Linked DNA regions of Homo sapiens: regions 1 and 2 are each linked to region 3. Evidence: fine-mapped expression QTL. A gene starts in region 3. Each other region holds a variant in brackets. All regions are shown on one strand. Distances are from middle to middle.

Region 1 (8,187 bases), 26 kb after region 3:
TCCTCACAGTGGTCCTGCTTGGGCTCTAGGCCCTTCCACTCCCATTCTCTCTACAGCAGCTGGGCTGATTCCTTTAGCACCCAAGGATATGTTGGCATCACAGTGACTTAGATACCATCACAAAGACCTCCCATTCAACTTAGAGTGAAAGTCAGAATCCTCACAGTGAATCCCCAGGCCCTAGAGGATGTGAACCCCCAGGCCCTAGAGGATCTGAACCCCCATCCCTCCTCTGATTATCTCTCCCACCCCCACTTCCCTTTGCATTCTGCTCCAGCTGCCCTGGCCTCATGGCTGGGTTTCCACCAAAGCAGGCACTTCCCATCACAGGGCCATTTCCCCGCCTGTGGCTTCTGCTTGACATTCCCTTTTCCCTGATATCCCCTTGACTCATTATTCCCTTTCTTCCTTAACTCTTCTGAGATCCAGCTTCTCAGTGATACCACACAGCCCTACTCCCCCCAGAGCCCATCTAGAGCTCACCTTTCCAGTCGCCCTTGCCAGGCTCAGTGGAGGCTCTTTGTTCCCCATACAGTACGTGTCGTCGTACTATATTGTTAGGCTTATTTAATTTATGTATGTTTTGCCTTTTTGTGCTAAATGTAAACACCACAAGGGGAGGTATCTTTGTCTGTTGACAATGATACATTCAATGTTTCTCAAGCACCCCCAATGCTGGTTTGTATGTGGTTATCATTCAATCTGTATTTGTTGAATGAATAAATGATTGACTATGTGGAGAGCAAAATTGATGGACCTGAAAATGTTTTGCAAAATGTAATATAGTCTACTGATACAATATTTATTATTATTGGCCAATAATGTTTAATGCCAAGTGCTAAATTAGTAAAATTTTGGGGATATAGAGAAAAATTGAGCAGAAGTCTTAAGTTTGTAAACATAATGGATTTTGTGACCTGATAACTTGGCATGTCCAGGCCTAGTCCCATTGAGCCCCCTGTGGTTTTGATTCCCTGTGACATCACAGTGACACCTTTGAATTATGCTTTGTCTCATACTCCATAAGCCACCTCTCAAAATGGTATCATCACTAAAAATATGGGGAACTTTCTATAAACTTACATAGACTACAACCTTTAAAAAAAAAAATTGATGTTAATGTTTTATGTTGCCTTTCTTCACCTAAACGATATGGTGCATCCACGCCATCCAGAAATGGAGTGTCTTGGGTCTGCTGTCCTTCCCGTCGCTTCCCTGTTACTGTGCATTTCTGTTATATACATTTGGCATTTTTTCTATCTCAAATCATAATTTTTTTTCTTTCTGACATATCCTTAAGGACTGCTCTGACAGTTACCAGTGAAATTCTTTCGTTCTCTATAAAAATTTGAACATCAACTCTGGTAGAGCACAGTGGCTCATGCCTGTAATCCCAACACTTGGGGAGACTGCGGTGGGAGGATTGCTCGAGACCAGAAGTTTGAGACCAGCTGGGCAACAAAGCAAGACCTGGTTCCTACAAAAAAAATACAAATTAGCCAGATATGGTGGTGCAAACCTGTAGTCCCAGCCACTTGGAAGGCTGAGGCGGGAAGATGGCTTGAGCCCAGGATTTCAAGTCTGCAGTGAGCCAGGATCACGCCACTGCACTCTGGCCTGAGTGACAGAGTGAGACCCTCTCCCTTAAAAAATAGAAAACTAAAAGAGAAAGTCAATCCCCAACATGAGCTTCTAGCCTTTTCTAAGCTATAACCCTCCAGAACTATGTCTACATATCCAGAAGTGTGGATAATTTATTCAAAGAAGTAATTTGCTTAATACCCCCCGATATGGTTTGGCTTTGTGCCCCCACCCAAATCTCATGCTCAGTTATAATCCCCAGTGTTGGAGGTGGGCCTGGTGGGAGGTGATTGGATCATGGGGGCAGTTTCTCATGGTCTAACACCATCCCCCTTGGATAAGTTGTGAAATCTGGTTGTTTAAAAGTGTGTGGCTCTGCAACTTTCTCTTGCCCCTGCTCTTGCCACGCAAGACACCAGTTCCTGCTTTGCCTTCTGCCATGAGTAAAAGCTCCCTGAGGCCTCCTGGAAGCAGATGCTGCCTTGCTTCCTGCACGGCCTGTGGAACCGTGAGCCAACTAAACCTGTTTTCTTCATAAGTTTTCCAGTTTCAGATATTTATAGCAGTGTGAGAACAGGCCAACATACCCTCATGACCCCTTCTCCAAATCAGGTGACTGGTTTATCAATTTACTAAGCTTTTTTTTTTTGAGATGGAGTCTCACTCTGTCACTCAGGCTGGAGTACAGTGGCATGATCTTGGCTCACTGTAAGCTTTGCCTCCCGGGTTCAAGTGATTCTCCTGCCTCAGCCTCCTGAGTAGCTGGGACTACAGGCGCCCGCCACCACACCCAGCTAATTTTTGTGTTTTTAGTAGAGACGGGGTTTCGCCATGTTGGCCAGGCTAGTGGTCTTGAACTCCTGACCTCAGGTGATCCGCCTGCCTCAGCCTCCCAAAGTGCTGGGATTACAGGTGTGGGCCACTGCACCCGGCCTTAGACTAATTTTTCTAGCATGTTGAGAAGGCCCTGAGTGAAGAGGACTGGGAGGAGGGGATACAGGGAGCAATCAGGAGTGGGAAGTGAAATAACCTCTTTAGCCAGCAAAAGTAATGGAAAGCACTTAGAGTGGTGATTGCAACCCCTAGAACCCCAGAACGCAGAGAATTGGGAACACTGGGATCTGTTCAACCTGTCTGCCCTCCAAGCACTGACTCCTTGGTACTTGCTTTCTCTGTGCTGCTGGGGCCCCCTGTGGTCTGCTTTTCTATCACACAGGGAGGAAGAAAGGACGTCAGGGCCTGCGTATGTGTACCACACATATTCTATGAATTCTACACCATGTAGAATAGTCTCTTTACTCTCTAATTCTCTGACTACATCTACCCAAAAGTACCCAGTCATATTGATAAGTTTCTTAGTTAATTGACTCTAAGTCTGATTTTTTTTCTGACATTGCTTGGCTATTTCTGTATATTTATTTTCTTTAAAAAATTCAGCATTGCGATGTCATTTTTGCCTTTATAAGAGCATTGAAAACATAGTTACATATACATACCTAAGTCATGATACTTGCTCAATTTCCTTATCAGTTTTTGAAACTATAAACCTATGTATGCTAACATCTTCCTTTCAAACCAAAAAGTAAAAATAAGGCTGGGCGCAGTGGCTCACACCTGTAATCCCAGCACTTTGGGAGGCCAACGGGCGTGGATCACCTGAGGTCAGGGGTTCAAGACCAGCCTGGCCAACATGGTAAAACCTCATCTCTACTAAAAATACAAAAATTAGCCAGGCGTGATGGCGGGTGCCTATAATCCCAGGTACTAGGGAGGCTGAGGCAGGAGAATTGCTTGAACCTGGGGGGATGGAGGTTGCAAGTCACAGTGAGCAGAGATTGCACCACTTCACTCCAGCCTGGGCAAAAGAGCAAAACTCCGTCTCAAAATAAATAAATAAATAAAAATAGAACAGGCCATGCTGTAGCTCCTTAATGTAATAATACACTTTATGTGATTTTTTTCACTATGTAGGACAATGGGTTCTTTCTCTTTCATACACAAAAATATTAGTAAAAAGAAGATGTCAAAATATTTTGGCCCTATTTTCAGCAGATAAAACGAGAGAGAAAAAACAAAATGCATGATTCTGTTCTAGGTAGCATGGGACCAATTATGCCTCAGCTGTTTTCTTAGCCGTATAATGATTGTTGGGAACAGGGGAGGGGAGCAAATGGCTCATTGGTATTTATGGTTTTAGAACAGCAATGAATTGAGTCCCCTAATTTTACTTATGTGAGGTAGTAAATTCTTTTTATATCAAGGGACAAATTCTCATGGTGCTCATTTTCTCTCTGGACCTGACGGGAGATTGGGCAATTTGATGTGGTGCGCGCCTCTGCCTCAGTGGATGTGCTGGTGATCCCTGTGGGTCTGAAGTTTCCCCAGCGCTTTGGGCTGCTGATGAACCCAGGCTGCCATCAGGGTCCGTCTCCAGTCTTCCCTCAGCGGAGCTGCAACACTGCGTAATTGCAAGAAACCCCTGTTCACCAATACTGTGGGCCATTGCATTTATAAGGAATGGGCCAAGCCTGAGAGAGGCACTTGGATTTCCTTACGCCTGGCTACAGCACCTGTGTGCGCCCAAGAGGGTAGAAGGCATTTCGTGACCTGGCTGAGGCCCTCT[C/G]GCTATGTCTGTGTTCCTGCATTCTTTCAGTGTTGCCTAGCAGCATGCAAGTGAAAATGGTGAGCAGGTTTCTGGATTGAGGAACTCAGCTCAGAGGTCTGCACGTCTAGGTTGGTTTGTTAAATGAATAAGTCATAGGGAGTGCCTCAAGGGTTAAAAAAATCTGAAGAACATACTCCTTGCTCTTAGAACATTTATAAATTATGACAGGCCGGGCGTGGCGGCTCACGACTGTAATCCCAGCACTTTGGGAGGCCGAGGCGGGCGGATCACGAGGTCAGGAGATCGAGACCATCCTGGCTAACACGGTGAAACCCCGTCTCTACTAAAAATACAAAAAAATTAGCCGGGCATGGTGGTGGGCGCCTGTAGTCCCAGCTACTTGGGAGGCTGAGGCAGGAGAATGGCGTGAACCCGGGAGGCAGAGCTTGCAGTGAGCCGAGATCGCGCCCCTGCACTCCAGCCTGGGCGACAGAGCGAAACTCAGTCTCAAAAAAAAAAAAAAAATTATGACAGACACACCAACACACAAAGACATACACAGACAGCACTTATATCACAAGTCGTTTAATTATAACAAAGCACTACATCTACCAATGCAAAATTATTATTATTACTATTATTATTATTATTATGTTTGAGACAGTGTTTCGCTCTGTCTCCCGGGCTGGTGTACAATGGGGTGGTCTCGGCTCACTATAACCTCCGCCTCTCGGGTGCTAGTGATTCTCCTGCCTCAGCCTCCCGAGTAGCTGGGATTACAGGCATACGCCACCACGCACGACTAATTTCTTTTTTTTTTGTATTTTTAGTAGAGATGGGGTTTTCCATGTTGGTCAGGCTGACCTCGAACTCCCAACCTCAGGTGATCCACCTGCCTCAGCCTCCCAAAGTGCTGGGATTACAGGCGTGAGCCACCGTGCCCGTTCTAATGAGAGTCTTCTTTAACCTCCACTTCACTTTCTAAAAGTGAGTCTCTTTTTGGCGGGGGTCGGGGAGGACAGGGTCTCACTCTGTCGCCCAGGCTGAGGTGCCAGTGGCATGATCACAGCTCACTGCAGCCTCGACCTCCTGGGCCCATTGACCCCCGTACCTCAGTCTCTTGAGTAGCTGGGACCACACCTTTGTGCGACCGTGCCGGGCTAAGGTTTAATTTTGACTTTTGTACAGATGGTGTCTCCCCATGTTGCCCAAGCTAGAAATGAGCCTTTTCAACAATTTCAAACCGTACGTCCAGATATCAGTTCTGTTTGAATACAAATACAGTCATGCGTTGCTTAACGATGGGGATGTGTTCTGAGAAAGGCGTCGTTAGGTGATGTTGTCGTTGTGTGAGCATCACAGCATGTACTTACACAAACCCAGATGGTGTATCCTACCACAATCCTGGGCCATAAGTGTCTGGGATAGCTTGTCACTCCTAGGCTACAGACGAGTACAGCATGGTACTGTAGTGAATACTGAAGACAGCTGTCACTCCGTGGTAAGTATATGTGTATCTAAATATAGAAAAGGCACAGTAAAAATACTGTATAAAATACAGAAAATGGTAACCTGTCTAGGGCATTTACCATGAATGGAGCTTGCAGGACTGGAAGTTGCTCTGGGTGAGTCAGTGAGTGGGTGGTGACTGAATGTGAAGAGCCAGGACAGTCGTGTACATGACTACAGACTTTATCAACTTTGTACACTTAGTCTATATTAAATGCATTAAAAAGTATTTTTCTTTCTTCAATTAGAAACTATCCTTAGTTTATGGAAACATTTTTACATTGTAAACCTTTTACTTTTTATTAACTTTGTGACTTTTTTTGTAATAGCACTTAGCTTAAAACACACATTGTAAAACTGTATTAAATACTTCCTTTTTATTCTTATTCTACAAGTTATATTCTATTTTTTTTTTTTTTTCACTTTTCAAACTTTTTCATTGCAAACTAAGACACAAGCAAACACATTAGCCTGGGTGTCCACTGAGACAGAATGATCAGTACCACTGTCTTCCACCTCTACACCTTGTCCCACTGGAAGGATTTCCGGGGCAGCCACATGCATGGAGCTGTCACCTCCTATGATCACAATGCCTTCTACGATACTGCCTGAAGGACCTGCCTCAGACTCCTCTTGAGGAGGTGAAACCACCACAGATGTAATTTGTTGTTGACCAAAATGTGTTGTTCTGCAACATGTGCCTGTATACATATATACGTACCGTGTGTATTTGTGTTTGTATAGTGAGAGTTTGTGAACAAAAAATGGAGTCACACTACATATAATCTCACTATACATTATATTTAGCTTTCTTTCTTTTTTTTTTTGTTTTTTGAGATGGAGTCTCGCTCCGTCACCAGGCTGGAGTGCAGTGGTGCGATCTTGCCTCACTGCAACCTCCGCCTCCCGGGTTCAAGCGATTCTCCTGCCTCAGCCTCCTAAGTAGCTGGGGTTACAAGCATGTGCCACCATGCCTGGCTAATTTTTGTATATTTTAGTAGAGATGGGGTTTCACCATCCTGGCCAGGCTGGTCTCGAACTCCTGACCTCGTGATCCACCCTCCTCAGCCTCCCAAAGTGCTGGGATTACAGGCGTGAGGCACCGCACCCAGTATAGTTAGCTTTCTACTTGTTTGATATTAATATCTTTTTTTTGGACAAAATTCTGGGTAATGTCATTCCAATTTAGTGATTGTTTCCAGTCGTCTATTAAATCATGTCTATCACTTTAACATACCTTGTTTCCCAGTATTATCTATTTCAGTAGATGCTATAATGAAGTTTTTGAGAGTATGTGTTTACTGATTGAGGGTTAATAAATGCAAAGCAGATTCCTAGATGTGGAATTAACAGGGCAATGAGAAAAGCATGTCATTTAACATTTTATGAAAGACAGATATTTCTTTTGTTAAAATAATATGTACTATGTCAAGGTATATGTGTATTTAAATAGTCATTTTTTTAAGATCTCTCCAAAGATACTATTTCAATTTTGACTCTTATCAAGAGTTCATGAGGCCAGGCATGATGGCTCATACCTGTAATCCTGGCACTTTGGGAGTCCAAGATGGGTGGATCGCTTGAGATCAGGAGTTCAAGACCAGCCTGGGCAACATGGCAAAACCCCATCTCAACTAAATATACAAAAATTAGCTGGGTGTGGTGGCACATGCCTGTAATCTCAGCTACTTGGGAGGCTGAGGCAGGAGAACCTGGGAGGATGAGGCTGCAGTGAGCCCAGATCACACCACTGCACTCCAGCCTGAGTGATACAGTGAGACTCTGTCTCAAAAAAAAAAAAAAAAGTTTATGAGATTGGACTTATTTCCCACATTTTTTCAAGCTCTGGATATTACCACACTTTTCACTATTTACCTATCTGGAAAAGCAAATATCTTTATATTTAAATTTTTATAACCTCAATCATCAGTGAAAACATTTCTAATGTTTATATCACTTGCTTGTAAATCATGCATTTTCCTGTGAACTGTTTCTTCAAGTCATTACATATTTTTCTTTTACTACAGGTTTTTCTTGCCACTTTTTTGAGAAAAAAATTAAGTAAGGTAGCCTTCAGTTGTCTTGTTGAATTTTTCTACTATTGTTATTATTTTTTAGACTTTGCTAGTAGTGTTTCTTTTTGTTTTGTTTTGTTTTGTTTTTGAGACAGAGTCTTACTCTGTCACCCAAGCTGGAGTGCAGTGACACGATCTCGGCTCACTGCAACCTCCGCCTCCCGGGTTCACGCTATTCTTCTGCCTCAACCTCCCGAGTAGCTGGGATTACAGGTGTGCACCACCACACCTATGTAATTTTTGTATGTTTAGTAGAGAAGGGCTTTCACTGTGTTGGCCAGGCTAGTTGTGAACTCCTGACCTCAGGTGATCCACCCACCTTGGCCTCCCAAAGGGCTGGGATTACAGGCATGAGCCACCGCACCTGGCCAAAAGTGTTTCTTAGAGTGTAAATTTTTCTAAATAGGTAATACAATT
Region 2 (8,159 bases), 440 kb after region 3:
CTATCTTAACTATATTACTGCTTTGGAACCTGAAGATCTAGATGAAGCAGGAAACTCCTTTCACTTGTTCTAGAACAGTTACCTTTTGAAATTCAGGTTGGTCTGAAATGGCGGGTTAACTTTCAGACACTTATATTGAAGATACATTGTCCCTGGAAGCTCTTAGTTATTTCCTCCTTCGTGTTAAAAACTTATATTATTTCTTAAGTGTGTTTTACATATGGGAAATATAGCCTTTATCATAAAACTCTCTAAGACAATTTGATATCCAGTCTCTGATTACAATTTGGCTTTGATAACCACTGCTTTCCTCCATCACTATCTATCTTGTGTCTTTAATAATAGTATAGTCTTCTTTTATTCTTCTGCAAACTCCAAATCTTTAAAATGTGTCCCAAATTTTTCATCAGAAATATCTCTACTTACCTATGCCTTGGGAGAAGTAAGGTAACCCAATAATGTATAAGGTTGTTGAGTCTTACTCAGCTTTGATAACTCATTGTTAGTAACTGTCAAGATTCAGCATGATCATGCAATTCAGAGTTCATATCGATGGAGGTATGTCAATAAGTCAAGGTAACCTTAAAGCACGTGTAGAAAAGAGAACTTATTTGTAGTTTAAAACAATTTTCCAATGCAATTACAATGACGCTCTTGGAAAAGATAAATATTACTTATATAAAAAATTACATGAATTTAAAAAAGTTTGCCTTAAAACACCAAATAAAAAGAGACTGGAAAAAATAAAAAAAGATTGTGACAATATAGCAGTTACATTTGAGTTGTGTACTTCCCCTTTTGTCATGCATCTATATTTTAAAATATAACTTAAAAATAATGTTATTTGTCTTTGGTGGAGTCCTCATATTTAGTTTTTAATTGTAGAGCATACACATGGGAAATAACACTCAAAATACATTATTGAACAGAAATAAACTCTTCCAGGTTAGGGTACAAGCTTTGGAGTCACTTTTTAATATTTCTGTTCTATGTGAAATTAGGAACCATATTTAACTTTCCATGTGTTAATTTCTTTTTTCAGATAGTAGGAAATTGAGTAACACTCAACAACCTTATACATTATTGGGTTACCTTACTTCTCCCAAGGCATAGGTAAGTAGAGATATTTTTGATGAAAAATTTGGGACACCTTTTAAAGATTTGGAGTTTGCAAAAGAAAAAAAGAAAACTTATATCATGGGGTTGTTGTAGGATACAAAGTAATCTATAGGTATTACTTCACTTGAAGAAAAGTACATAAATGCTCAAAAATGGTATCTGTCAATACAATTGGCTCACTTCATTCTTAAAAATATCTTATTATATCAATACACAAACTTAATTTTCTCTTCATGAATTACTAAAGGGAGAGAATTACATAGTGTTAAAATGTTAATAAATTCAGGAACTTAGACTCATCTGACACTAGATCATCTTGACCTGTGGGCCTCATTTTGCTGGTGTTTTAGGTTTACACACGTCCCCAGCCACCGTTTCAGGGCTTCCTTGACCTCACTGTTCCTCACACTGTAGATGAGGGGATTTAGTAAAGGGGTGAACATAGTATAGAAGGCTGACACAACCTTATCGTGGTTAGTGGACCTGTGGGATTTGGGTCTCATATAGGTAAAAATGCCAGCTCCATAAAAGAGTCCCACCACAGCCACATGTGAAGAGCAGGTGGCAAAGGCCTTCTTGCGGGCTTCTGTAGAGCGCATGAGCAGAACAGCAGCGAGGATGAGACCATAGGAGGACAGGATGAGGGAAAAGGGGACCAGGAGCATTAACACACAGCAGATGTACATGGCGTTTTCGAAGACTGAAGTGTCAGCACAAGCCAAACGCACCAACACGGGGGCCTCGCAGAAGAAGTGATCGATCTCGTGTGCACCGCAATATGGGAAGCTCAGGGTAGCAACAGCCTGCAGGAGGCCGTCAGCTGCACCCAGGAGCCAGGACGACATGGTCATCCTCAGGCACAGCTGCCAGCTCATGAGAGTGGGATATCGGAGTGGGTGGCAGACAGCCGCATAGCGGTCATAGGCCATGGCTGCTAAGAGGAAGCACTCTCCACCACCCAGTGTGGGGAGGAAGAAGATCTGCACACCACAGCCAGCGCGGGAGATGGCCTTATTTCCGGTCAAGTAGTCAGCCGCCATTTTGGGCACAGTGGTGGAAACCAGCATCATGTCCATGAGGGAAAGTTGGCTCAGGAGGAAGTACATGGGCCTGTGGAGCCGGTGGTCCCAGTGAATCAGGAGAATCATGAGGGCATTGCTAAACAGGGAGGTCAAAACGGTGGCCAGAAGCATCATGAAGAGGACTTGGTGGGCTCTGGTGTGGTTAAAGAGTCCTAGGAGAATAAAATCTGGGGTAGTATTTCTCATCTCCATAATTTCCCCTGGTGTGATGGTGCAAATGGAAAAATAGAGAAAGAAGAGGCTTTTATGGTCTGAATAACTGTTTGACTGCACAGTTTCTGGACATATGTACTGGATATGTTATCCCAGGTCGTGATTCAAAGCCCTGACTCCCAGTAGGCACAGCTTTTCCTGACCTGGCATTCACTTCTCTATAGCTCAACTTTTTAATGTTCTAACTGAGATCATGTACTACAAACAGGAGTATATTTACAGATCAAAATGAATAAAAATTTTTTTTTTAGTTTTGTTATTTTTTTAATTATACTTTAAGTTTTAGGGTACATGTGCACAATGTGCAGGTTAGTTACATATGTATACATGTGACATGCTGGTGCGCTGCACCCACTAACTCCTCATCTAGCATTAGGTGTATCTCCCAGTGCTATCCCTCCCCCCTCCCCCAACCCCACAACAGTCCCGAGAGTGTGATGTTCCCCTTCCTGTGTCCATGTGTTCTCATTGTTCAGTTCCCACCTATGAGTGAGAATACCCGGTGTTTGGTTTTTTGTCCTTGCAATAGTTTACTGAGAATGATGATTTCCAATTTCATCCATGTCTCTACAAAGGACATGAACTCATCCTTTTTTATGGCTGCATAGTATTCCATGGTGTATATGTGCCACATTTTCTTAATCCAGTCTATCATTGTTGGACATTTGGGTTGGTTCCAAGTCTTTGCTATTGTGAATAGTGCCGCAATAAACATATGTGTGCATGTTTCTTTATAGCACCATGATTTATAGACCTTTGGGTATATACCCAGTAATGGGATGGCTGGGTCAAATGGTATTTCTAGTTCTAGATCCCTGAGGAATTGCCACACTAACTTCCACAATGGTTGAACGAGTTTACAGCCCCACCAACAGTGTAAAAGTGTTCCTATTTCTCCACATCCTCTCCAGCACCTGTTGTTTCCTGACTTTTTAATGATTGCCATTCTAACTGGTGTGAGATGATATCTCATTGTGGTTTTGATTTGCATTTCTCTGATGGCCAGTGATGGTGAGCATTTTTTCATGTGTTTTTTGGCTGCATAAATGTCTTCTTTTGAGAAGTGTCTGTTCATGTCCTTCGCCCACTTTTTGATGGGGTTGTTTGTTTTTTCTCGTAAATTTGTTTGAGTTCATTGTAGATTCTGGATATTAGCCCTTTGTCAGATGAGCAGGTTGCGAAAATTTTCTCCCATTTTGTGGGTTGCCTGTCACTCTGATGGTAGTTTCTTTTGCTGTGCAGAAGCTCTTTAGTTTACTTAGATCCCATTTGTCAATTTTGTCTTTTGTTGCCATTGCTTTTGGTGTTTTAGACATGAAGTCCTTGCCCGTGCCTATGTCCTCAATGGTAACGCCTAGGTTTTCTTCTAGGGTTTTTATGGTTTTAGGTCTAACGTTTAAGTCTTTAATCCATCTTGAATTGATTTTTGTATAAGGTGTAAGGAAGGGATCCAGCTTCAGCTTTCTACATATGGCTAGCCAGTTTTCCCAGCACCATTTATTAAATAGGGAATCCTCTCCCCATTGCTTGTTTTTCTCAGGTTGGTCAAAGATCAGATAGTTGTAGATATGCAGCGTTATTTCTGAGGGCTCTGTTCTGTTCCATTGATCTATATCTCTGTTTTGGTACCAGTACCTTGCTGTTTTGGTTACTGTAGCCTTGTAGTATAGTTTGAAGTCAGGTAGCGTGATGCCTCCAGCTTTGTTCTTTTCGCTTA[G/A]GATTGACTTGGTGATGTGGGCTCTTTTTTGGTTCCATATGAACTTTAAAGTAGTTTTTTCCAATTCTGTGAAGAAAGTCATTGGTACCTTGATGGGGATGGCATTGAATCTATAAATTACCTTGGGCAGTATGGCCATTTTCACGATATTGATTCTTCCTACCCATGAGCATGGAATGTTCTTCCATTTGTTTGTAACCTCTTTTATTTCATTGAGCAGTGGTTTGCAGTTCTCCTTAAAGAGGTCCTTCACGTCCCTTGTAACTTGGATTCCTAGGTATTTTATTCTCTTTGAAGCAATTGTGAATGGGAGTTTACTCATGATTTGGCTCTCTGTCTGTTATTGGTGTATAAGAATGCTTGTGATTTTTGTACATTGATTTTGTATCCTGAGACTTTGCTGAAGTTGCTTATCAGCTTAAGGAGATTTTGGGCTGAGACAATGGGGTTTTCTAGATATACAATCATGTCATCCGCAAACAGGGACAATTTGACTTCCTCTTTTCCTAATTGAATACCCTTTATTTCCTTGTCCTGCCTAATTGCCCTGGCCAGAACTTCCAACACTATGTTGAATAGGAGTGGTGAGAGAGGGCATCCCTGTCTTGTGCCAGTTTTCAAAGGGAATGCTTCCAGTTTTTGCCCATTCAGTATGATATTGGCTGTGGGTTTGTCATAGATAGCTCTTATTATTTTGAGATATGTCCCATCAATACCTAATTTATTGAGAGTTTTTAGCGTGAAGCGTTGTTGAAATTTGTCAAAGGCCTTTTCTGCATCTATTGACATAATCATGTGGTTTTTGTCTTTGGCTCTGTTTATATGCTGGATTACATTTATTGATTTGCTTATATTGAACCAGCCTTGCATCCCAGCGATGAAGCCCACTTGATCATGGTGGATAAGCTTTTTGATGAGTTGCTGGATTTGGTTTGCCAGTATTTTATTGAGGATTTTTGCATCAATGTTCATCAAGGGTATTGGTCTAAAATTCTCTTTTTTGGTTGTGTCTCTGCCCGGCTTTGGTATCAGGATGATGCTGGCCTCATAAAATGAGTTAGGGAGGATTCCCTCTTTTTCTGTTGATTGGAATAGTTTCAGAAGGAATGGTACAAGTTCCTCCTTGTACCTCTGGTAGAATTTGCCTGTGAATCCTTCTGGTCCTGGACTCTTTTTGGTGGGTAAGCTATTGATTATTGCCACAATTTCAGCTCCTGTTATTGGTCTATTCAGAGATTCAACTTCTTCCTGGTTTAGTCTTGGGAGGGTGTATGTGTCGAGGAATTTATCCATTTCTTCTAGATTTTCTAGTTTATTTGCGTAGAGGTGTTTGTAGTATTCTCTGATGGTAGTTTGTATTTCTGTGGGATCGGTGGTGATATCCCCTTTATCATTTTTTATTGCGTCTATTTGATTCTTCTCTCTTTTTTTCTTTATTAGTCATGCTAGCGGTCTATCAATTTTGTTGATCCTTTCAAAAAACCAGCTCCTGGATTCATTAATTTTTTGAAGGGTTTTTTGTGCCTCTATTTCCTTCAGTTCTGCTCTGATTTTAGTTATTTCTTGCCTTCTGCTAGCTTTTGAATTTTCAACCCAGAATTTCATATCTAGCCAAACTAAGCTTCATAAGTGAAGGAGAAATAAAATACTTTACAGACAAGCAAATGCTGACAGATTTTGTCACCACCAGGCCTGCCCTAAAAGAGCTCCTGAAGGAAGCACTAAACATGGAAAGGAACAACGGGTACCAGCCACCACAAAATCATGCCAAATTGTAAAGACCATCAAGGCTAGGAGGAAACTGCATCAACTAACGAGCAAAATAACCAGCTAACATCATAATGACAGGATCAAATTCACACATAACAATATTAACTTTAAATGTAAATGGGCTAAATGCTCCAATTAAAAGACACAGACTGGCACATTGGATAAAGAGTCAAGACCCATCAGTGTGCTGTGTTCAGGAAACCCGTCTCACGTGCAGAGACACACATAGGCTCAAAATAAAAGGATGGAGGAAGATCTACCAAGCAAATGGAAAACAAAAAAAGGCAGGGGTTGCAATCCTAGTCTCTGATAAAACAGACTTTAAACCAACAAAGATCAAAAGAGACAAAGAAGGCCATCACATAATGGTAAAGGGATGAATTCAACAAGAAGAGCTAACTATCCTAAATATATATGCACCCAATACAGGAGCATCCAGATTCATAAAGCAAATCCTGAGTGACCTACAAACAGACTTAGACTCCCACACAATAATAATGGAAGACTTCAACACCCACTGTCAACATTAGACAGATCAACGAGACAGAAATTTAACAAGGATACCCAGGAATTGAACTCAGCTCTGCACCAAGCGGACCTAATAGACATCTACAGAACTCTCCACCCCAAATCAACAGAATATACATTTTTTTCAGCACCACACCACACCTATTCCAAAATTGACCACATAGTTGGAAGTAAAGCTCTCCTCCGCAAATCTAAAAGAACAGAAATTATAACAAACTGTCTCTCAGACCACGGTGCAATCAAACTAGAACGCAGGATTAAGAAACTCACTCAAAACCGCCCAACTACATGGAAACTGAACAACCTGCTCCTGAATGACTACTGGGTACATAACGAAATGAAGGCAGAAATAAAGATGTTCTTTGAAACCAACAAGAACAAAGACACAATATACCAGGATCTCTGGGACACATTCAAAGCAGTATGTAGAGGGAAATTAATAGCATGTGCACATTGTGCACATGTACCCTAAAACTTAAAGTATAATAATAATAAAATTAAAAAAATAGAAAAACGATGTCTAATATGTGATCGAGTTTTTCCAAAAAGAATATGTCTCCAAAGCAAACAGATAGTTCCTATAACATCAGAAGTCTTTTACAGATAAATTGATAGAGAAATTCAGCTTCAGTCAGCATGTGACCAGCACAATACTAGAAATGGAGATTAAATTTGTGTCTTCGATCACATGATAGTAGGCAAATCATTTTTGTCAATCATCATGAAGAGAGAAACAGGTCTCAACCTCCTCCCTTTCTGGTTTTAAAACAAATCAAGAACTTGGATAAACCTGATTATTGGTATCTGAGATCTAGGTTCAGTCAATGTCTTGAGAATGAGAAATGGGCATTTCTGGGATCTTTAGTGTTGTGGGTTTCCCACCTCAGGGTGCCATTGTGTTAACCTCAAGAAGAGGTGGGCTTTTAAGGAAAATTGGGAAAATACATTGTATTGCCTCAATAATTTCCAGTGCTTATGAGCGGAATTCACTTCAAGAAAATAACTCATCTCAACTTACTTTATGGAACCACCTATTTTGACCATCATACCATAGCTGTCCCAGTTATCTGGATCTTGTCAACTGTTGTAATACACAATTTATCCAAATAAAACGGTATTACCTCAGATTTCCACCATAATTTGTCTTTAAGTGAGTCTTGCTATGAGCTTCCTTGCAAGAAGGAAGCTATGTGGTCAAGTTCGCTTCTCCCTATGCTTCTTTTTCAGTTGGCAAAGTGTTCTTTACATTTGGGAAACACTACTTCCAAGTCACTAAGTTGAGATAAAATGGTGATTAATTCTACTTGATCACTTAGACATTTCTACCATATGTTTTACATTCCATTGAATGATGCAGCATTAAAACAAAATTGATTACAAATGTAAATCTACATATCCCTCTGAATTGTCTCCATCACATTAGTTTAGGCTGAATTTATATAAATGCACTCTTATTTGTGTTGTATTTTTTCACCTCCCTTCATTGCCTCAAAATTCCCTTCATACCCACATGCTAAAATTGACTTCATTGATTTCATCCTGTCACAGAGAATGTGGCAAGATATATCACAAATTTATAACAGTTTATAAGTGATAAAATTGAAAATACTGAGCACTAGATTGCCCTATGCCTTCTATATTAAGATCCATGTGAACATTTATTCAATAAAATTCTATAAAGAAAAATAATGTTGTTTCTAACGAGAAATTTGACATTCCTTCTAAGTAAG
Region 3 (8,187 bases):
AATACAAATTTAAGTTAGAGTATTCCCATTAAACCAGAAACTGCCTGGCGAGGCACTCCACATAGCATTTGTAAATACAATGACATCTGGATATAATCCAGTCCACAACTTACCTGCATGGACGTGCTGTAAGGGAAATGTGTGTTTCTAAGAACAATGGTACCGATGTCATTCCTAGTCAACCAGTGTCAGAGACAAAACAGTTTAAGCTCAGCAACTCTAGGACCAGCAGGGGAAGAAGTGAGCTCGCCCACTCCGTCACACCCTACTGAAAACCACAGTGACCCCCAACGTCAGAAGCCAGGGGCCTTTCCTTAGGATCACAGGCACTAGGAAATCTGAATTTAAGTGAGCCTAGTTATCAACTGGCCCATATATTTGAGTAAATGGATTGTTTTACTGTGTCTCGTTATGCCTGCAAAATAGAAAAATGCTCCAGCATCTGCCAGAGTTATGGAGAGCCAGGGCAAGATCATATATGTAAAATGCAGAAAAACATGGATTTGACATTTGACATAATATAATCATCTTTGAACTTCCCTCTTTCATTAGCTCCTATGATAAACTGTCCTAATTCTGTTCATTTACTTATTAACTTGTTTAATCAGTTAGTATGTGTGGAGTGTCCATTTGTGCCAGTTACTCTTCAAGGTCCTGGGGATAGATAGAGCAGTGAACAAAATAGAAAAAAATCTCTCTTCCTAATGTAGCTTACCTTTTGACTCACCATCCTTCCATTCACTTCACTATTTCATTTCCTTTTCTTCAATTAAATATATTTGCTACATGGCCGGGCGAGGTGGCTCACACTTGTAATCCCAGCACTTTGGGAGGCCAAGGTGGGGAGATTGTTTGAACCCAGGAGTTTGAGACCAGCCTGGGCAACAGGGCGAAACTCTGTCTCTACAAAAAATACAAAAATTAGCTGGGCGTGGTGGCGGGCACCTGTAGTCGCAGGTACTTGGGAGGCTGAGGTGAGAAGATCACTTGAGCCTGAAAGGTAGAGGCTACAGTGAGTCAGGTTGTGGCACTACACTATAGCCTGGGCAGCAGAGCAAGACCCTGTCTCAATATATATACGTGTGTGTGTGTGTGTGTGTGTGTGTGTGTGTGTATTTCCAACATGCCAGGACCTATATTAAGTGTCTACTATCTATTAGCTCGTTTAATACTCTGAAAGGCCTTATATGAATGACACTAACACCTCTTCACTGCACGTCAGAAGAAATGCAGGGCAGAAACGCGGCACAGCTTGCCTCAAGCTTCTCAGCAAGTGCCACAGCCCTTAGTCCGGAGCCAGAGTCTGTTTTTCTTTGCTAAGCCTTCTGCTCTTTAGCTTTTTTCTCTAATGCCACATCTTTCGTGTTTTGCTAATACAGATCCATGTGTGTTCTCCAAGAATCTATTCGCTTTAATTGCGCACTTAACCTTTAGGCCTCAAGATCCTCTGCTCTGCCTGTCGCCAGAGATCCAGCCCAAGAGTTTGTCCTTATAATGAAGACCCACAAACCCCAGAGGATCCCCAAGGACCTGAGTCATCTGGCCCCGCCTCTTGCTGCAGCCTTATCTGCTGCCACCATATTCTGGCCCAGCTTGCCAGCCTGCCTGGCTTCTCACTGTCATCTGGGTATGTCTTGCTCCCACCTGCTGAAGTTTACCTTGTACCTTTCATGGCTTCTGGGGGCACGGCCTTGCGGAGCCCCCCTTCCCGCTGGCCAGCTTGTGTTCACCTATCAGAGGTTTGCTCAGAGACCTCAGGTGTCTGCCCCCGACCCTGCAGCCTCATTCAGAGTCCTCTGTTATATTCCTGCAGGACTGGTGAGCGACCTTCCTTGCAGTTATTGGTTTGTAATTATATGTTTGCATGATTTCATATCCACCTCTTCTAGTTGATCTTAAGGCTCCTGGAGAAATGGGGTCCCACCTCTTTTCCTTAACATGTGTATTTTCAGTACCCGGTGCAATGTCTGAGACTCCTGGCTACAAACAGACACAATGTGTGCTCAGGGACAGATTGATTTGCCACAGGTACACCCCACCATCACTTCAAACTCGACCATACTAAAGTTATTTTGCACAGATGCAGACACTGCCTCAGACTTGTCGACTTTCTGGACGACATTAGAGACTTTAATGTACTTTATCCTGATTCAGCCTTCCACTGGATGAAGTAACATACTCTGTCAAATCATTTTGCTCCTGTCTCAGCCTCCCCCATCTGACAGGTACACCACTGAGAGGCTAAGCTTGAATTATTCCTCTGATGAGTATCTCTATAGCTTTGTCATCTCCAAGACTGGCTTTGCAACAATCCTACAACATGTGTGTATTCCTTGTAGGATCCTCATTGAACTAGGCCAGATATTTATTTAAATATTTAGAATTATTTTTGGCTGGGCTGTAAACCTATAGTTACACACACCTATGCAGGCATCTTCCCGTGTCAGGCGGTGTCTCATTTCTTTATCAAGAGGTAATTAGTGCAAGAGAAAAAAATGAAGTTTGAAAAAAACATTTAAAAATTGATTATGCCATATAAAGGGGGAAAGCCTTTTAAGAAACGATTATGGCATGAGAGGACCATGGAGTAGCTCAGTAACAATGGAAGGGGCTCGGAGGGTGGAAGGCGGGCGAGGGATGAGAGATCACCTAATGAGAACAATTTACGCTATCACAGCGATGCCTGCGCTAAAGCCTAGACTTTATGCAGTGTCTCCATGTAACAAAACTGCACTGGTACCCCAGAAATCTGCACTAAATCTATATAATGATGATGGAGGCTGGGCGCGGTGGCTCGCGCCTGTAATCCCAGCACTCTGGGAGGTCGAGGCGGGCAGATCACCTGAGGTCACGAGTTCAAGACCAGGCTGACCAAAATGGTGAAACCCCGTCTCTACTAAAAATACAAAAATTAGCCGGGCATGGTGGCGGGCGCCTGTAATCCCTGCTGCTTGCGAGGCTGAGGCAGGAGAATCGCTTGAACCCGGGAGGCGGAGGCTGCAGTGAGCCGAGATCGCGCCACCGCACTCCAGCCTGGGCGACAGAGCGAGACTCCCTCTCAAAAAAACAAAAACAAAAACAAACAAACAAAGATGGAAGGAAGGAGGGAATTTAGCAATTCTCCAGATCTACTGCCAGTGAAAATAGCATATGAGGAGGGATTCCAGTTAGAAATGCCCAGTTTCCTGGGTGTGTGTGTGACGGGGGCGGGGAACCACAACGTTAATTTTATCCCCGACATAGGGAGCGCCTGAGTGGTGGCTTTTCACCGGGTGTGGCTCGTCTGAGCTCTTGAACTGAAGCCAGCGGACACCACCCGTCGGCGCCTGCTTTCCTGGGGCGTGGGCTCCTCCCCCTGTGCAGACCGCGAGGGGAGACGGTGCGGGCGGCCGGGAGCGCAGCCCTCCGGGAGGCGGGTCATGGCCTGGGCGCCGCCCGGGGAGCGGCTGCGCGAGGATGCGCGGTGCCCGGTGTGCCTGGATTTCCTGCAGGAGCCGGTCAGCGTGGACTGCGGCCACAGCTTCTGCCTCAGGTGCATCTCCGAGTTCTGCGAGAAGTCGGACGGCGCGCAGGGCGGCGTCTACGCCTGTCCGCAGTGCCGGGGCCCCTTCCGGCCCTCGGGCTTTCGCCCCAACCGGCAGCTGGCGGGCCTGGTGGAGAGCGTGCGGCGGCTGGGGTTGGGCGCGGGGCCCGGGGCGCGGCGATGCGCGCGGCACGGCGAGGACCTGAGCCGCTTCTGCGAGGAGGACGAGGCGGCGCTGTGCTGGGTGTGCGACGCCGGCCCCGAGCACAGGACGCACCGCACGGCGCCGCTGCAGGAGGCCGCCGGCAGCTACCAGGTGAGGCGCCCCCCGGCGGGGGCTGCGGGCGCTGCGGTGACCGGGAAGCGGGCGACAGTCCGGAGCGGAGCCGCCGAGGCCACCCGTCTCCTGAGCGGCTCCCACGGCCGCTCCCCCCACCGCGCGCCGTCCCCCCCGCCCACGCGGCTCACTCAGTGTGGGTCTCTTTGCCTTGGCTGTGGTAACCCCCTTTGCGACACACACCCATTATTTTACACCGTCCGCCCCTCCCCCAAGCACTCTCCTGTCGTCGAACTCGCGCTGGGCTGGTTTCTCCCGATGCGGATAGTCTGGTCCCTCAGCTGGGCTCTGGTCGGGAGGGCTGTGTGGTCCAGTTCATTCTTGGTAACAATTGTACGTCTATATCGTAAACTTGCCATAATAATTCTCATTTGTGCAATGCTTTGCTTTTGCACAGTGTTTACATTAAATGAGTGTTGTCAGCAAAGCAACCCTCGGGTTTGGGCGTTGTTAAGAAGAGTGTCGAGCTGGGTACGGGTTCCGACCCCTCCAAAGCTCAGGTGCACGTGCCTCCTGAAGTAGGAGCGGGTGGCTCTCCATCAGCAGGGATTTGGGGACTTAGGATTCGAACATCCTCAATGAAGAGGTGCTTCATTTGGGGTGTAGCCCGGGAAGCTTCAAAGAGAAAGAAGAAAAACAAAATGGGAGTATTTGGTCCCCAGAGTGGCATCTGTGAAATTGTGTGTCGATTTCTTCCTACTGGTGCCCTTCAAAAGTTCTTGGATGTTTTCTGAACACACTTGAATCCCAGCATGTAGAACAACTGCCAGCACAGAGGAGGTCTAAGTCGTCTTTACTGACAGATTTAACCAAAGGACTGTCAGTCGCGCTGTAGTGCATTGCAAATACTTTCTTAAAATTTTTATTTATTTATTTTGTTTGTTTTAAATTAAGGTTTAGGATATTTTCCCCTTCCTTCTCTACCAATATCTCTCTTGGTATTTCTTCTTGATTTTCGTTGTCATTTGCGAGATGTAGGTACTAGTACTAGGTAATTTCTAGCTAAACTTTTCTGGAATGTTCTTGCCTTTTTAAAAAAAGTCCAGAAAGAGGATTGGTAGTAACTTTTTTTTTTTTTTTTTTTTTTTTTTGAGACGGAGTCTAGTTCTGTAGCTCAGGCTGGAGGGCAGTGGCGCAATCTCGGCTCATTGCAACCTCCGTCTCCCGGGTCCTGGTGCAAGCAATTCTCCTGCCTCAGCCTCCCGGGTAGCTGGGATTACAGGTATGCGTCACCACACCCGGCTAATTTTTGTATTTTTAGTAGAGACGGGGTTTCACTGTGTTGGCCAGGCTGGTCTTGAACTCCTGACCTTGTGATCCATCCGCCGTGGCCTCCCAAAGTGCTGGTGTTACAGGCAGCCCAGCCTCTAGTGTAATATTTCTAAAGGTGTTCTCCATATTTTCAGTAGTTCTTCGGTTAAATACCAAATAAATATTATCTAAACTCCTGAGCCTCTCAGTGAAAGCTTTCTAGGGCCCTAAGTTATGTTTCCATAGCTCTCTTGTCTTAACCAGCCAGGAAACCCAGCAAATTTAGCCGAATCACTGTTTTCCTAACTGTGCTACATCTCCTTGCTTTTGCTGACAGTTTCTTTGGCCTGAGGGAGCTTTTCTTTATCTACAAGTGTCAAAGTGCTCCGTTCTTTGTAAACACCAAAACACATGCCACTTTCCCCACTGAGTCAAATGGTATCATGAATTCTACTGTTATTTTATATATAACAATTATAATATTCTCCTTTTAAAAACAATTGATGTGTATGTAGGATTTATTGAGTAACTTTGGGAATATAATTTTTTAATTAAAATCCTGTTTATGTATGTATCTTTGTGAGTATTTAAAATACACATATTTACCTCTAGTGAGCGCCCTATCATTGAAGGAAGATTTAGTTCTCATTGTATTTTTACTCATTGCAAGGTTTACAACATACTGTGTTTTTTCATATAAAATATGATAACCTACCAAGTTCCTTCTGACCTAATAATACTACTAATACTACAATAATAAACCCATGCTTTATCATAAAGTAACCAATAACTTCAAGAAGTTGAAGTTATATAGAGAAATACAGAATACAGTTATATAGAGAAATATATAAATATAGAGAAATGTATAAATATAGTTATATAGAGAAATATATGAAATATAGAGATATAATAGCATCACTCTTCATCCAAACACCAATAGATGACATTTTATCTAATATCATTCTCATTTACATCAGCCCAGTTTTAATATATTCATTACCAGCACATTTTTTTTCAAAATTCATGTTGTTTTGTAAAATATTTTTATTCATTGGACATTATCATTGTATTTCTAGTCATTAAACATTCTGTAACATCTTATTTTAATTCTATCCAGTTAATATAATTTTTTTCTCCCCTATCTTTAATGTTTTAGTTTAGTTATGCTATCGTATATAACAATGCAGTGAGCATACTTTTAGATAAATATTTGATTGTATCTGGTATTAAAATACATTTAAGGAGCTAGGCCCAGTGGCTCATGCCTATAATCCCAGCACTTTGGAAGGCCAAGATGGGAGACTCTCTGGAGGCCAGCAGTTTGACACCAGCCTGGGCAATATAGTAAGACCCCATCTCTACAGAAAACAAAATTAGCTGAATGTAATGATGTGTGCCTGGAGTCCTAGCTGCTTGGGAGGCTGAGGTGGGAGGATCATTTGATCCCAGGAGTTTGAGGCTGCAGTGAGCCATGATCGCAACACTGCACAACCTGAGTGACAGAGCGAGACCCTGACACTAAAACTTAAGTACATTTATGTTTAGTTTTTAATGATATTGAACATTTTTATGTGCTTTCTAGGGACTGTTTAAGTTGACTTTTGTATTTCCTCACACATCTGTGTGACGTTAGGTACAGATTGAGGGCATCTGTAACAGCTGAAATGTTCCCAAACAGGTAAAGCTCCAGATGGCTCTGGAACTTATGAGGAAAGAGTTGGAGGACGCCTTGACTCAGGAGGCCAACGTGGGGAAAAAGACTGTCATTTGGAAGGTAAGACCATGTTGGGGCTTTAGGAGGCTTGCCTGTTTGAAGGATCCAGATTCGGGTCAGTAATTCTTCTACCATCTTCCATTCTCCAGCACTTTTGTTCCATCTCCATATATGCCCAAGAGCACCTCAGAGCCATCCTGGGTCATCCCGTCCCCTCAAATGATATGGTTCATTTTTGTTCTTTTTGTCTCTACTGCCATCACCCAATCCAAATTATAATTAAATAGCTTTGCTAGTTTGATCTTCCTGTAAAACCCACTGCTGTATCCCTGTCACCTAGAATAGCATCTTATACTGTTGCTACCAGTTTGAAAATATTTGTTAGGTGAATGAAATAATGAATATTTCACAACTTTGTAACAGAAGAAGTGTAGCCCAAGGTGATCATCTTATATACAGGGTAATAATCTGAACGTTTAGCCTTTTTTTTCTATCATCTATACATACACATATTCCATTTTTTTATACCTCACTAGCTCTTTTTATTCCATGTTTCATTCATGCACATGTGCGTGCACACGTGTACACACACACACAGTGATTCATACACACACAGTGATTCACATACACACACACACACAGTGATTCTCAACCTGAGGCGATACCTGCCCCCCAAGATAACATTTTGCAATTTCTGGAGATGATATTTTTGGATGTCACAACTGAGGAGGGGTGGGTGCAGTGCACCTGTCATCTAGTAGAGGCAGGAATGCAGCTTAACACCCTGTAGTCCACAGGACAGTTCCCATATCTTGTGAGGAAAAAATGATCTGTTCAAGATGTCAGTAGTGTCAAGATTGAGAAACTACGTATAGAAACTGTGTGTATAGTTCTATATATTCATATAATGTATTATATAATATGATATATAATAGGTTATACTTTGCAGAATATTCCTATTCTTTCTCCTTTTCCAAATAACCCTTCTTTTCTGATCACTCTATATATTTATAATTATTTCCTTCTTGTTTTCTTTGAAAATTTAGTCTTATACTCTGTCTTTATACAGATATTACATAAAGACTTTTTAAACTATATTTTTCTTTATTTACTACATTACTAGATTACAATATAGATATATACGGATAGGAAAAGATAACACTTATCCCAGAAGAAACATGTACATTAAGGCCAGGCGTGGTGGCTCACACCTGTAATCTCAGCACTTTGGGAAGCCGAAGCAGGTGGATCACCTGAGGTCAGGAGTTCGAGACCAGCCTGACCAACACGGAGAAACCCCGTCTCTACTAAAAATACAAAAAAAAATTAGCCAGGCGTGGTGGCACATGCCTATAATCCCAG

The links. PIP is the estimated chance that this variant, and not a neighbour inherited with it, causes the effect. A credible set is the group of variants that fine-mapping cannot tell apart.
Region 1: its variant is the best candidate, but not a certain one, in a credible set for the expression of TRIM58 in testis (GTEx, PIP 0.56).
Region 2: its variant is the best candidate, but not a certain one, in a credible set for the expression of TRIM58 in whole blood (TOPMed, PIP 0.50).

The regions. Positions count from the first base shown.
Region 1 is chr1:247,879,391-247,887,577 of GRCh38, forward strand. It overlaps TRIM58 (tripartite motif containing 58), which reads left to right. Exons shown (of 6, transcript NM_015431.4): 6 at 1-748. Among named protein-coding and RNA genes, the nearest start is that of OR2W3, 12 kb to the right of the region's middle. The variant C/G (reference allele first, on the strand shown) is at 4,205.
Region 2 is chr1:248,293,186-248,301,344 of GRCh38, forward strand. It overlaps OR2T12 (olfactory receptor family 2 subfamily T member 12), which reads right to left. Exons shown (of 3, transcript NM_001004692.2): 3 at 1-2,401. The coding sequence starts at 2,393. The coding sequence ends at 1,431. Among named protein-coding and RNA genes, the nearest start is that of OR2T12, 6.2 kb to the right of the region's middle. The variant G/A (reference allele first, on the strand shown) is at 4,132.
Region 3 is chr1:247,853,828-247,862,014 of GRCh38, forward strand. TRIM58 (tripartite motif containing 58) reads left to right here and starts at 3,360. Exons shown (of 6, transcript NM_015431.4): 1 at 3,360-3,839; 2 at 6,790-6,885. The coding sequence starts at 3,420. RefSeq lists a cis regulatory region at 1,273-1,837.